Linked DNA regions of Homo sapiens: region 2 is linked to region 1. Evidence: fine-mapped expression QTL. A gene starts in region 1. The other region holds a variant in brackets. All regions are shown on one strand. Distances are from middle to middle.

The links.
Region 2: its variant is fine-mapped to the expression of RPS6KA4 in whole blood (TOPMed, PIP 0.97).

The regions. Positions count from the first base shown.
Region 1 is chr11:64,356,183-64,361,545 of GRCh38, reverse strand. RPS6KA4 (ribosomal protein S6 kinase A4) reads right to left here and starts at 2,384. Exons shown (of 17, transcript NM_003942.3): 1 at 2,256-2,384; 2 at 2,097-2,168; 3 at 1,165-1,383; 4 at 954-1,069; 5 at 305-412; 6 at 1-77. The coding sequence starts at 2,310. CCDC88B (coiled-coil domain containing 88B) reads right to left here. Exons shown (of 27, transcript NM_032251.6): 27 at 4,012-4,507. The coding sequence ends at 4,452. RefSeq lists enhancers at 989-1,098, 1,832-2,359 and a silencer at 2,109-2,598.
Region 2 is chr11:64,388,139-64,393,501 of GRCh38, reverse strand. LOC124902688 (a long non-coding RNA gene) reads right to left here. Exons shown (of 2, transcript XR_007062718.1): 2 at 3,189-3,376. Among named protein-coding and RNA genes, the nearest start is that of LINC02723, 5.0 kb to the left of the region's middle. The variant C/T (reference allele first, on the strand shown) is at 2,268.

The DNA.
Region 1 (5,363 bases):
CCATGCCCCGTCTTGCTACGGATGATTTCGGGGGCCATGTACTCGATGGTGCCACAGAAGGAGAAGGTCCGCTCTTTCTGGGAGGGCAAGAGGTCCTGCTTAGATGTCGAAACCTCTCCTGTGCCCCAGTGCCCCACAAGGCCCAGAGTAAGACTCGCTCAACTTGTGAGGTTGGAGAGCTGAGCTGTGGAAACTTCTTGGAGCTATTCACTTCTGCAGCCCCAGAATGCAGGCCCAGAGCAGGAAGAGGCAGGAAGGAGAAGGATTGAATGGGGCACTGCAGGCAGAGGTGGCCTCCACTCACCTCCTCCGTCAGGAACTCCTTGCTCAGCCCGAAGTCCGTGAGGACAATGTGGCCCTCGGAGTCCAGCAGCACATTCTCCAGTTTCAGGTCTCGGTAAATGATGCCGAGCTGGTAGGAGCAAGAGGGGTGCTGAGGCTTCCTCCCCGAAACCCTCCCCAGCTCCTCCAGCTCCTGGCCCTGCTCAGGATAAGGAGACCCCCCAGAGAAAGTCATCTGCCTGTAGAGGGGGTCTCCAGGGCAGAGCCACTGAATAAGAAAGGCCATTTAAGATATAAAACAAAGAAGGAGGGCCCCGTGGATCAGGCCCCAAGGTCCCAGAGAGAGGAAAGTCTGTGTGAAGAGCTCCATTTCAAGGAGGCCTTAGGAGCCAGGCCGTGAGGTTTCCATTTGAGGAAGTTCTGTGAACGCAGCCCCGAGTTCCCTGAAAGAGGAAAGCCCCTTCGAGGAGGTGCCAGGGGAGGGGACCCCACCAGGCAACGTTGAGGCTTCCTGCAAGGGGTCCAGGGGAAGCAGCTCCAATTCCCACCCAGCTCACCACTGGCCCCCCAGGAAGCCCAGGGGGAAGCCTGAGGCTGCCCTGCGTGCAGATTCCTTCCAAGGCACAGACCCAGTTTCCATAGCAACAGCCTGCGGCCAGGTCTTCACCCACCTTGTGCAGGTGTTCCAGGGCCAGCACGATCTCACCCCCATACACGCGCACCTCAGCCTCCTTGAAGTACTGGCGCTGGTAGAGGTGGGTGAACATCTCCCCGCCGCTCACATAGTCTGGGAGGTGCAGTGGAAGTCAGGAAGCAGCCCCGTCAGGTGGCCTCGCCTGCCCCCAGCCACCCCAACCCCGTTGGGATGTGGTGTGCGCTCACCCAGGATGAGGTGCAGCTTGGCATCCGTCTGGAAAGCGTAGTGCAGCGTGACCAGGAAGGGCGCCTGGCGCACCAGCTCCAGCACCGAGCGCTCGGTGCGCGTGTGCTCTTGCGTCTTGGCGCGCTGCACCAGCGCCGCCTTGCGCAGCACCTTCATGGCGTACAGCTTCCCCGCGTCGTGCCCGCCCGCCTTCCGCACCAGGAACACCTTGCCGTAGGCTGTGGGAGCAGCGAGTGGGTGGAGGGTGGGCTGTGAGCGGGAGATTGGTGCAGGCTTGGGGGGTGGGGGCGATGCCAACCCAGGAGGGTGTGCAAATGAGGCGAAGGAGCTGGGGCAACAGGCAGGTGTGCAAAAAGCTGGCAGAGCCTTCTAAGGAAAGGGTGTGCACACCCCGGGAGGGTGCCCAGCAAAACCAGGGAAAGGATGTGCAAACCAGGCTGGGGAGCATGCATCTCCAGGGGGCCTGCTGCGAGGCATGGGGGCGGGGCATATGCAAACCTGCGAGAGATCAGATGGATGTGAAAAGATGCCAGTGCAAGGAAGGGAGGCAGAGGTGTGCACCTGGCTGGGGAAGGGATGCGCAAACCAGCGCTGGGGCATTTGCAAAATGTGGGAGGGGGATCCCATATTGGAAGAAAGGGAGGAGCTATGCAAATCACTTGAGAGGGGCGCCAGTCCCCCTCCCCAGGGTGTTGGCAAATCCAGGGGGGTATGCACGCACAGGACCGTGGAGGGAGGAGTGATGTCAATGTGGAGTGCCCTGGAAGTGGGCATGCAAACTCTGGCGAGGCAGGGCGGGGCAGGCAAGGCAGGCTGTGCCGGGAAAGGGTGGGGGGCCTGCTCAGTGGCCTGGCCCAGGCCCAAGAGTGAGCAGGCAGGAGGTCAGGGGCACCGCGCCTGGGACGCCTGCCCGGTGGATGGGGGTCCTCACCTCCCGTGCCCAGCACCTTGAGCAGCTCGAAGTTCTCCACGCTCACCTTCTCCTCGTGCCCGGTCAGGTTGGCTGTGGGCACAGGGGGCGAATGAGCCCAGCCGGTCCATGACCCGTCCCGGCCTGCCCCGGGCAGCCGCAGTCAGGCCCCACACCCACCTTCTGTGATCCGCAGCTCCACGGCGCAGCTCTCATCGTCGTCCTCGTCCCCCATGGCGGGCGGGTCGCTGGGGCCCGCGCGGCTCGGGCTCCGGGCGGCGCCGGTTACATGGCGGCTCCGGCCGGGGCGGGCGCTTCCTGGTGCCGCCTCCGGGGCCGAGGCGGGCGCCGGCACCGCCTCCCGGCTCCCCGCCCTGCGCGGCCTGAGTCAGGCGGCTGGAACGTGACAGCGCCGGGCTGCCGGTGGGCGGCCGGCTGGGGCCGCCCTGTCTCCCGAGCCCCCAGGCCAGGCCTCAGGGCCGTGCGCTCCGGGACCTTACTCGACTCTCCCGGGAACTGGAAACACCCCGTGGGAGCCATCCCTGAGCCCGTGGGTAACCTGGAGCCTCTGGGGCATTAGTCCCCAAGCCAGGAATCTGCCCGGGAATGCCGGCTGCAGCCAGTGGCTGGAGGACATTAGGAGTCTGTGCCCCAAGGTGGGGGACGAGGTGCCTGGTGCTGGGCAGGCTGAGAGGGGGTCTGGATCCTGGAAGTCACCCAACTCTCAGGCAGTGGAGCCCACCCCACTCCATCGTCCTGGGGGTGGCCAGCAGGGCCCCTCTCCCCAGAGGACTGGCCTTTGCAAGGAGGAGCCTCATCACCAAGAGGGGGCTGGAGCCCGGCCTGGGACCCCATGGCAAGGAGAGGAGTGGCCAGTTTTCTGACCAGCTTTCTGTCGGGGGTGCCTGCAGAAGCACTTCAGCCCCCAGTCACCGTGCAGAGCCCACCAGGTGCCATGCGCACCTCACGTGTTCTGCTCCTGTTGTCTCCTAGCCTGGTGCAGTACCCAGCTTAGAGCCCTGAGCAGGCCTCAAGAAGAGATGTCAGTGCCACACGGGGCTGCCCCCTCTCCCCATGAGGCCCAGGGCCCCTGCTGACTGGTCCTCCTGAGCCCCTGCTCCGTCTTCTTCCTGCCTTTCCCTTCCTGACCACCAATGGGGCCACCTAGCAGAGTGGGACAGCCATGAGGCCCCACACCCTGAGGCCGGTGGGAGGGGCTCTCAGCTCCTCTGCCAGCTGGAGAGGCCAGGGTGTCCACCCCACGCCCCTGTCCTGTGAAGCCCTGGCTGAGAGGAGGAGGAACTCAAGCTGCTGCAGGTCACACCTGGGAGGCCGGACGGACCGTCCCTCCCAGCTCTGCACCCCCCAAGTTCAGGCTGCCTTATCTCAGCCCTGGGCAGCTCCACCCTCCCCTGGGTGGCCCCAGGTACCCTGACTCACATCCTGCACCCCAGCCGAATTGCCCCGCCTCTCAGGCATCAGGCTAGAGGCCCTGGTCAGAGAGCCAGCGTCCCTCCCACCTCTCCTGGCAACCCCTGGCATTAAGTGATGCCCCGCCAGGCTGAGAACTCCCTGGGGAGGGGGCTCAACCTCAAGGAGGGAGGGGAGATGAGTAGGAGGAGGATGTGAACAGAGAGAAGACAGTGCCCTGGGAGAGGGTGGGGGCGGGGCAACAGGGGCTTCACTGCCCCACACCCCTGAGCCCAGATCTTAGACCCCAATCCCTGCTGGCTACCCAGGATGTCATCCCCTCTCCACCTCACCAGGACATCCGGGCTTTGGCCGGCCGGACTGGCCAAGACCCTGGAGAAAGGCCTGTGCTGCCCTGTCCAGGCAGGGGCCCTCTGCCCACAGACCCCCACCAACCAGCAGGACTGGGGCGGCATGTGTCCTGGTGCCCTGAGGTACCCAGTGCGGCCAACAGACAGAGCAAGACTCAGGAGGCTGCAGTTCAGCTTTATTCTCATGCCCCTCATGTCCAGTTAAGGCTCAAGATCAGCCCAGGCCACAGTCCCCCAGCACTGGGACTCAGCTTCCCACCTGGACAGGGCAGGGGGTTCTCTTGCCAACTCCTGCCAGCCTCCTTCAGCTGGGGGATCCCCCAGAGACCGCTGCCTCAGCGGGAGCCACCTGGAAGAACCAGAACTCCAGCCTGGAGCTGCTCGTGGGGGCCAGCCATCCCCCCTGTCCACACACTCGTCCCAGCTCCATCTCCGGGCCCCGGCGCTGACCGTGGAGGATCTCAGGGCCCAGGCCTCCTTGTCCAAGGACTCCCCTTGGGGTCCCTGGCTCCCTGAGCTCTTGGGCTGCCTGGGGCCTCCGCTGACACTCCAGTGCCGAGAAGGCTGCACTCCCAAGCCTGCTGTTCCCACGGTGTCACTGGCTGAGGGATGGGGTGAGGGGACGTTTCTCCGGTTCCTGTACCTCAGGGCCTAGAGGGAAAGGCTCAGCTGAGATCTGCTTCCCTCAGGAGGACTCCCAGAGTCCCAGGAGGCCCACAGGCTCGAGCACCTTCTGCCCACCCCCGACCTGCCAATACCCCCCGCTTCCAGCTGCACCACGCCTGCTGTTCCCTCAGCGGTTCCCTCTGCCCAGAATGCTGTTCTCAGGTATGTCCACACGACAAACTCTCCCCTCCAAGTCTTTGCTCCAATTTCACATCCTCTCTGAGGCCCACCCCAGCACCCCAGTTACTAAAACTCCAACCAGCCTGCCCAGAGCTCCTGAGCTCCTGACCCCTCCCCTGCTCTCCTTTCTTCCCAGAGCATTAGCGCCTCCTGATGGTCCAGCCGGGTCTAGGGCTGAGCTGCCCAGGGCGGAGCTAAGTAGGTGAGATGGGGTTGGCCTGTGACGTGCTTCAAAGACCTACTATGTTTTTTTGTTTTTTGTTTTTTGTTTTTGAGACAGTCTCACTCTGTCACCAACGCTGGAGTGCAATGGCGTGATCTTGGCTCACTGCACCCTCTGCCTCCCAGGTTCAAGCGATTCTCCTGCCTCAGCCCCCTGAGTAGGTGGGATTACAGGCATGGGACACCATGCCTGGCTAATTTTTGTAGTTTTAGTAGAGACGGGATTTCACCATTTTGGCTAGGCTGGTCTCTAACTTCTGGCCTCAAGTGATCTGCCTGCCTTGGCCTCCGAAACTGCCAAAGACTTACTATGAAAAAAATCACGTCTGGCTGGGTGGCTCACACCTATAATCCCAGCACTTTGGGAGGCTGAAGCGGGCGGATCACCTGAGGTCAGGAGTTCGAGACCAGCCTGACCAACATGGTGAAACCCCGTCTC
Region 2 (5,363 bases), 32 kb before region 1:
TCCCAGCACTTTGGGAGGCCAAGGCAGGTGGATCACCTGAGGTCAGGAGTTCGAGAACAGCCTGACCAACACGGTGAAACCCCATCTCTACTAAAAATATAAAAATTAGCCAGGCGTGATGGCGCATGCCTGTAATCCCAACTACTGGGGAGGCTGAGGCAGGAGAATGACTTGAACCCAGGAGGTGGAGGTTGCAGTGAGCCGAGATCAGGCCACTGCGCTCCAGCCTGGGCGGCAGAGAGAGACTCTGTCTCAAAAAAAAAAAAAAAAAAAAGAATTAGGGACAGTGTCAAGTCCGTCCATTCTGGCCACAGTGTCCAACTTCAGGGACAGTAGGTGGCTTTTGGGGCACAGAGCCAGAGGCTGCAGTGGGGCCAGGCGTGGCACCCAGTGTTCAATGGTGGCAGCGGCCGATCGCTCCCGTGGCCTGACTTTGCCTCGGGTTCTGGGAGCTGCACCCTGTTTCTGTGGTTCTCCAGCCTTCCTGGTACCTCCTGAATCCCTTCCAGCCCCCATGGATAAAGTTAAGTGCCTCCCTCTCATGTGCTCCCTGGAACCACCTCCCTCGCGGCCTCATCAGCTAAGGTCTTTGTCCCCACACCACATGAGCACCCACTGAGGGCAGGGACAAAGCTTCATCTTGTCCACTTCTCTATCCCTGGGCCCAGCTCCAGCCTTACATGTAGAGAAAGTTCTCGTTGTGAGTGAATGCATGGCTCTTTGGAAACAGAAACAGAACCAGGAAAGGATTGACCCAAAGTCCGCTGCAGAGATTGAGCTCCCCCAGCCCCAACAGGGCCCCCCGCTACAGAGGCCTGGGGAACAACCCCAGAAGGGAAATCAGGAACCAGCCCGGGAATGGAATGTCCTAGATCTACCTGAGATCAGGACCCTCCTCCCCTTCCCAGCATGCAGTGACCTGCAAGAGTCACACAGGAGGGAGTCCTGGGACCATTCTCCCTCCTAGAAAAAAACCCTAAAAGACAAAGCTGTAGCAACTGCCTTAGAAGGACAGGCTGAGTGGCCGGGCGCGGTGGCTCATGCCTGTAATCCCAGCACTTTGGGAGGCCGAGGCAGGCAGATCACCTGAGGTCGGGAGTTCAAGACCAGCCTGACCAACATGGAGAAACCCCGTCTCTACTAAAAATACAAAAATTAGCTGGGCGTGGTAGCAGGTGCCTGTAATCCCAGCTATTTGGGAGGCTGAGGCAGGAGAATCGCTTGAACCTGGGAGGCGGAGGTTGCAGTGAGGGGAGATCACAGCACTGCACTCTCCAGAGCCTGGGCAATAGAACGAGACTCCGTCTCAAGGAAAAAAAAAAAAAAAACAGGCTGAGCTCCCTGGCTTGTGGGGAGAGAGCAAGGGGCCTGCCCAGAGCTGAGTGATCTGGGATGATGGGTGCAAGGGAAGATGACCTCCCTGCAAATTAATGAGGCAGCTTTCTGTTCATAAACCACCTGCCATGACAAGCCTGGCCTGTTCCCAAGACAATGTCCAGGCTCAGAGCAAGCCAGATCCAGAACAGTTTCCAAACTACATTCCAGGGAACCCCAGTGCTCCACAGGCATTGCTGGGTGTGCCATGGGGAGCCTTGAATTAAACACATATAACAATGCAGGACTCCTCAGAGCATTTAATGCGCTGAGGCCCTTGATGACTTTCCAAGAGGCAGCACAGTACACGGCTGATGACAACATTTTTGCTGAGCATCTATCATAAACTTCCAACCTCCTTGAGCTCCAAGGAACATAGCTTGCAAATGCTGCTGTGGGCAGCACCCCACTACCTGCCACTGAGAAACTGAGGTCCCATCTCTTAAGTCTCACTCCCACCCTCTGCTGGGGGCAGTGGGGAGCCAACCTGTCCTCCCCTTGCGGGGCTCTGCACACATTGCACACGTCTCCCTCTGGGGAAAGGGGTGCCAAGGAACTTCTGGGCCAGCTGAGCCAAAATACAGACTTGGAGTGTGAACTGGCCAAGTCACTGCCTCCTCCCTGAGGGTCCCTCCCTTTGGCACCCGCCACCTTATCTCCAGAGAGGCCACCGTGGCACAGAGCCCCAGGCTCCACAGGTGGCTACTGACCGTCACCCACCTCTGGGCCAAGTCCACTCTCTTTTTGTTTTCTTTTCTTTTCTTTTTTTTTTTTTTTTTTTTTTTTTTTGAGACAGAGTCTTGCTCTGCCCCCCAGGCTGGAGTGCAGTGGTGCAATCGCAGCTCACCGCAACCTCCACCCACTGGGCTCATGTGGTTTTCCTGCCTCAGCCT[C/T]CCAAGTAGCTGGGACTACAGGCGCGGGCCACCACTAAATCTTTGTATTTTTTTAGTAGAGATGGGGTTTCACCATGTTGGCCAGGCTGCTCTCGAACTCCTGACCTCAATTCATCCACCTGCCTCGGCCTCCCTAAATGTTGGGATTACAGGTGTGAGCCACCACACCCGGCCCCAAGTCCACTCTCATTCTTGCCCTGCCCCCTGTGGGCCACAGGACAGCCCTCTGTAGTAACCACTGAAGTCTGGTAAATGAACAACCTCAGCCCCTTGGAAGTCCCAAGAGATCCCAGCAGCTTCCCCTGCCTTGTCACCGCACCTGAAGAATGGTGGTGTGTGGTGGAAGGAGTACAGCCCTGCTCTGGGCCATCGGCTACCTGCATGTCCCCTCTGCTGGAGCCACAGGCCCCTCTGTTGGGCCAGTGTCCACATCCCACACCACAGCCAGGCCAGGCTTCTTTAGAAGCTCCCCATCACTGAGCCAACTTCCTCTGCCAGTTACACATATCACCCAGATGGGGTGATTTCTTACTGCAGAACACTTTGTTAATTGACACACCATTGAACTGAGCTGATGACTCCCGTGACTTGGTATCCTTAGTCCCTGATATGTTTTGGCTGTGTCCCCACCCAAATCTCATCTTGAATTGTAGTTTCCATAATCCCCACATGTAGTGGGAGGGACCTGGTGGGAGGTAATTGAATCATGGTGGTGGTTACCCCCATGCTATTCTCATAATAGTGAGTGAGTTCTCATGAGATTTGATGGTTCTATAAGGGGCTTTCCATCTTTGCTCATTCTTCTCTCTCCTGCTGCCCTGTGAAGAAGGACGTGTTTGCTTTCCCTTCTCTCATTATTGTAAGTTTCCTGAGGCCTCCCCAGCTCTGGGAACTGTGAGTCAATTAAACCTTTTTCCTTTGTAAATTACAGAGTCTCAGGTATGTCTTTATTAACAGTATGAGAACAGACTAATACAGTACCAATATCTTTTCCTGATTCACTCATGGCACCTGAAGATGGGAAGAAGTAGCACAGACACAGCTGTGATTTCCGGCCCCTCTATGAGCTGCATGCTGACCCTTGGACATGAAGATTCTCTCTCTTGGCTCTGGAAGGTGCCAAGAAATAAAATGATAAATGGAGATGCAGCCTGGCTAAAGGACAGTTCAGCAGTAGGGTGGACTTCAGGGTTGGTTCGATCCAGCAGCTCAGCTGTGTCCTCAGGACTTGACCTCTTCCCTCTCTCCTCTGTCATCCATAGCCTCAGCTGGACCCTGAGGTATGGTGTCCTTGGGGTGACAGGCTGGCTGCCAGCTGCCATTAGGGCTAGGTGCTTCCTCATCTGTGACCAGCAGAAATGGGTGAGCATCTATCCCAGCATCCCGTGCATTCCAGCAACTGACCTAGAGCAAGCTTGGAGGGACCAGAAAGCACAAGTGGGAGGAACAGGAGCTGGGTAAGCTACACACACTACACAAAATCACAGATCAAAGCCACTTGGTCCTGGGCCAGGCTCAGAGTCCATGCTCAAATATCAGCTACCACTTTTATTCTATGTAAGTCAATATTTGGGCTAATAATGAGCCCATCTTCCCTTGAAGCTAACAGTCTAAGGGATGGTGAGATGACATAAAAAGACACCTGGAGTCTCCACCAATGACTGGCCTCATCATCACATGCAAGACCTCCCCGTACCTTCTCCATCTGCAAAATGAGGGTTAAAATATCTCCTCACCAAACTCACAGGAGAAATCATGCTTTATAAATGCAGAGATGTTGGCCATGAGGCTTCTGATCCTTGCTACAGGCTTTCAGATCTTTATTCTGAGCATTGGCAACAACACGTTTCTGAGAACATCTCCTTTGGCAAATGGTAGGTCAGGCAGAGCTGCTTCAACAGAAGATGTTTTTGCTTTCAAAAAAAAAAAATTGTGTATGCCTTTTAATCCAAATGGCTGAATTGCTGATTCAATCAGCAAACATGGAACAGACTGAGAAAGTGCAGCGTGAGCTCCGAGACAGCAAAGAGGGCCATGAACTTCAAGGATGTTTATGGAGCGATTGCTGAAACCAGCTTTCTGAAGAGGTAAGTCTCCACCAGGCAACAGGGAGGCACGATGCGGGAGTGCCGTGGGATTTACGATGTTCATTAAGTCCATCAGCTTCCAACTCCCTCTGCAACCTGCATGTCCAGCTCGGCTACCCGGGGCACAAACAAGCTCTCCAGCTAAATTACCAAGATTCTTAGTGCCCGGCTGCACACCCACAGAGCACAGCCCACCTCAGCACCTGCCACCCCTGGGGATTCCAGGGCATGTTGAGTGTCTCCCACATGCTCAGGTCCAAGCCCACACCTGGCTTCCACCTGGCCCCATCCTCTCTGCATCCCCTGCTTCTGCTGGCCTCCAGTGTTCCCAGGCTGCCAGTCCTAGAGAGTCAAGGTTAGGCTAGGGTTGGGGCAGAAACACACGACTTTGTGCTGTCCCATAGCTGCACTGTTCTTTGTCACCCAGGCCAGAAGGGACACTGCCTGAGCCCAGAAGTTTGCTACCACTCCCAGAAACAGATCCCCAGGCCCCAGCCCAGCCGTCACTTCGCAGCATCCACCTCCACCATTCTTGCTGCCCCTTCCCCTCCCAGGGCACCTCTGCACCAAACGACTTCATTCTCCTCCTCCAGTTCTGAGAGATAAAACCAGCGGGCATGCCCGTTCCTGCAAACAGGACCAAGCCAACACAAGGCCCCCAGGCCCACAAAAAGCAGGCTCTGTTCCCAGTACAGATGCCTCAGGGACACCCTGCTATATCCATGTCAAACTTCCCTTTATTCATGAATAGAGATGGGAAGTGAGGCATCAGGTGTGCTCAAAAGCTTTGCTATCGGTTAAGAATTGCACCTGGCTACAAGCTACAGAGAATCAAAATAACAGTGGCTATAATAAGGGAGAGGTTAAATTTTGCTCTCATGTGAAAAGAAGTCTAGAGTTAGCCAGCCCAGGGTTGATACAGCAGGTCCACAGCCATCAGTGACCCAGGCTCATTCTATCTTGCTCTCTGCCATCATTAACATGAGGCTCCCATCCTTGGGGCTACCTC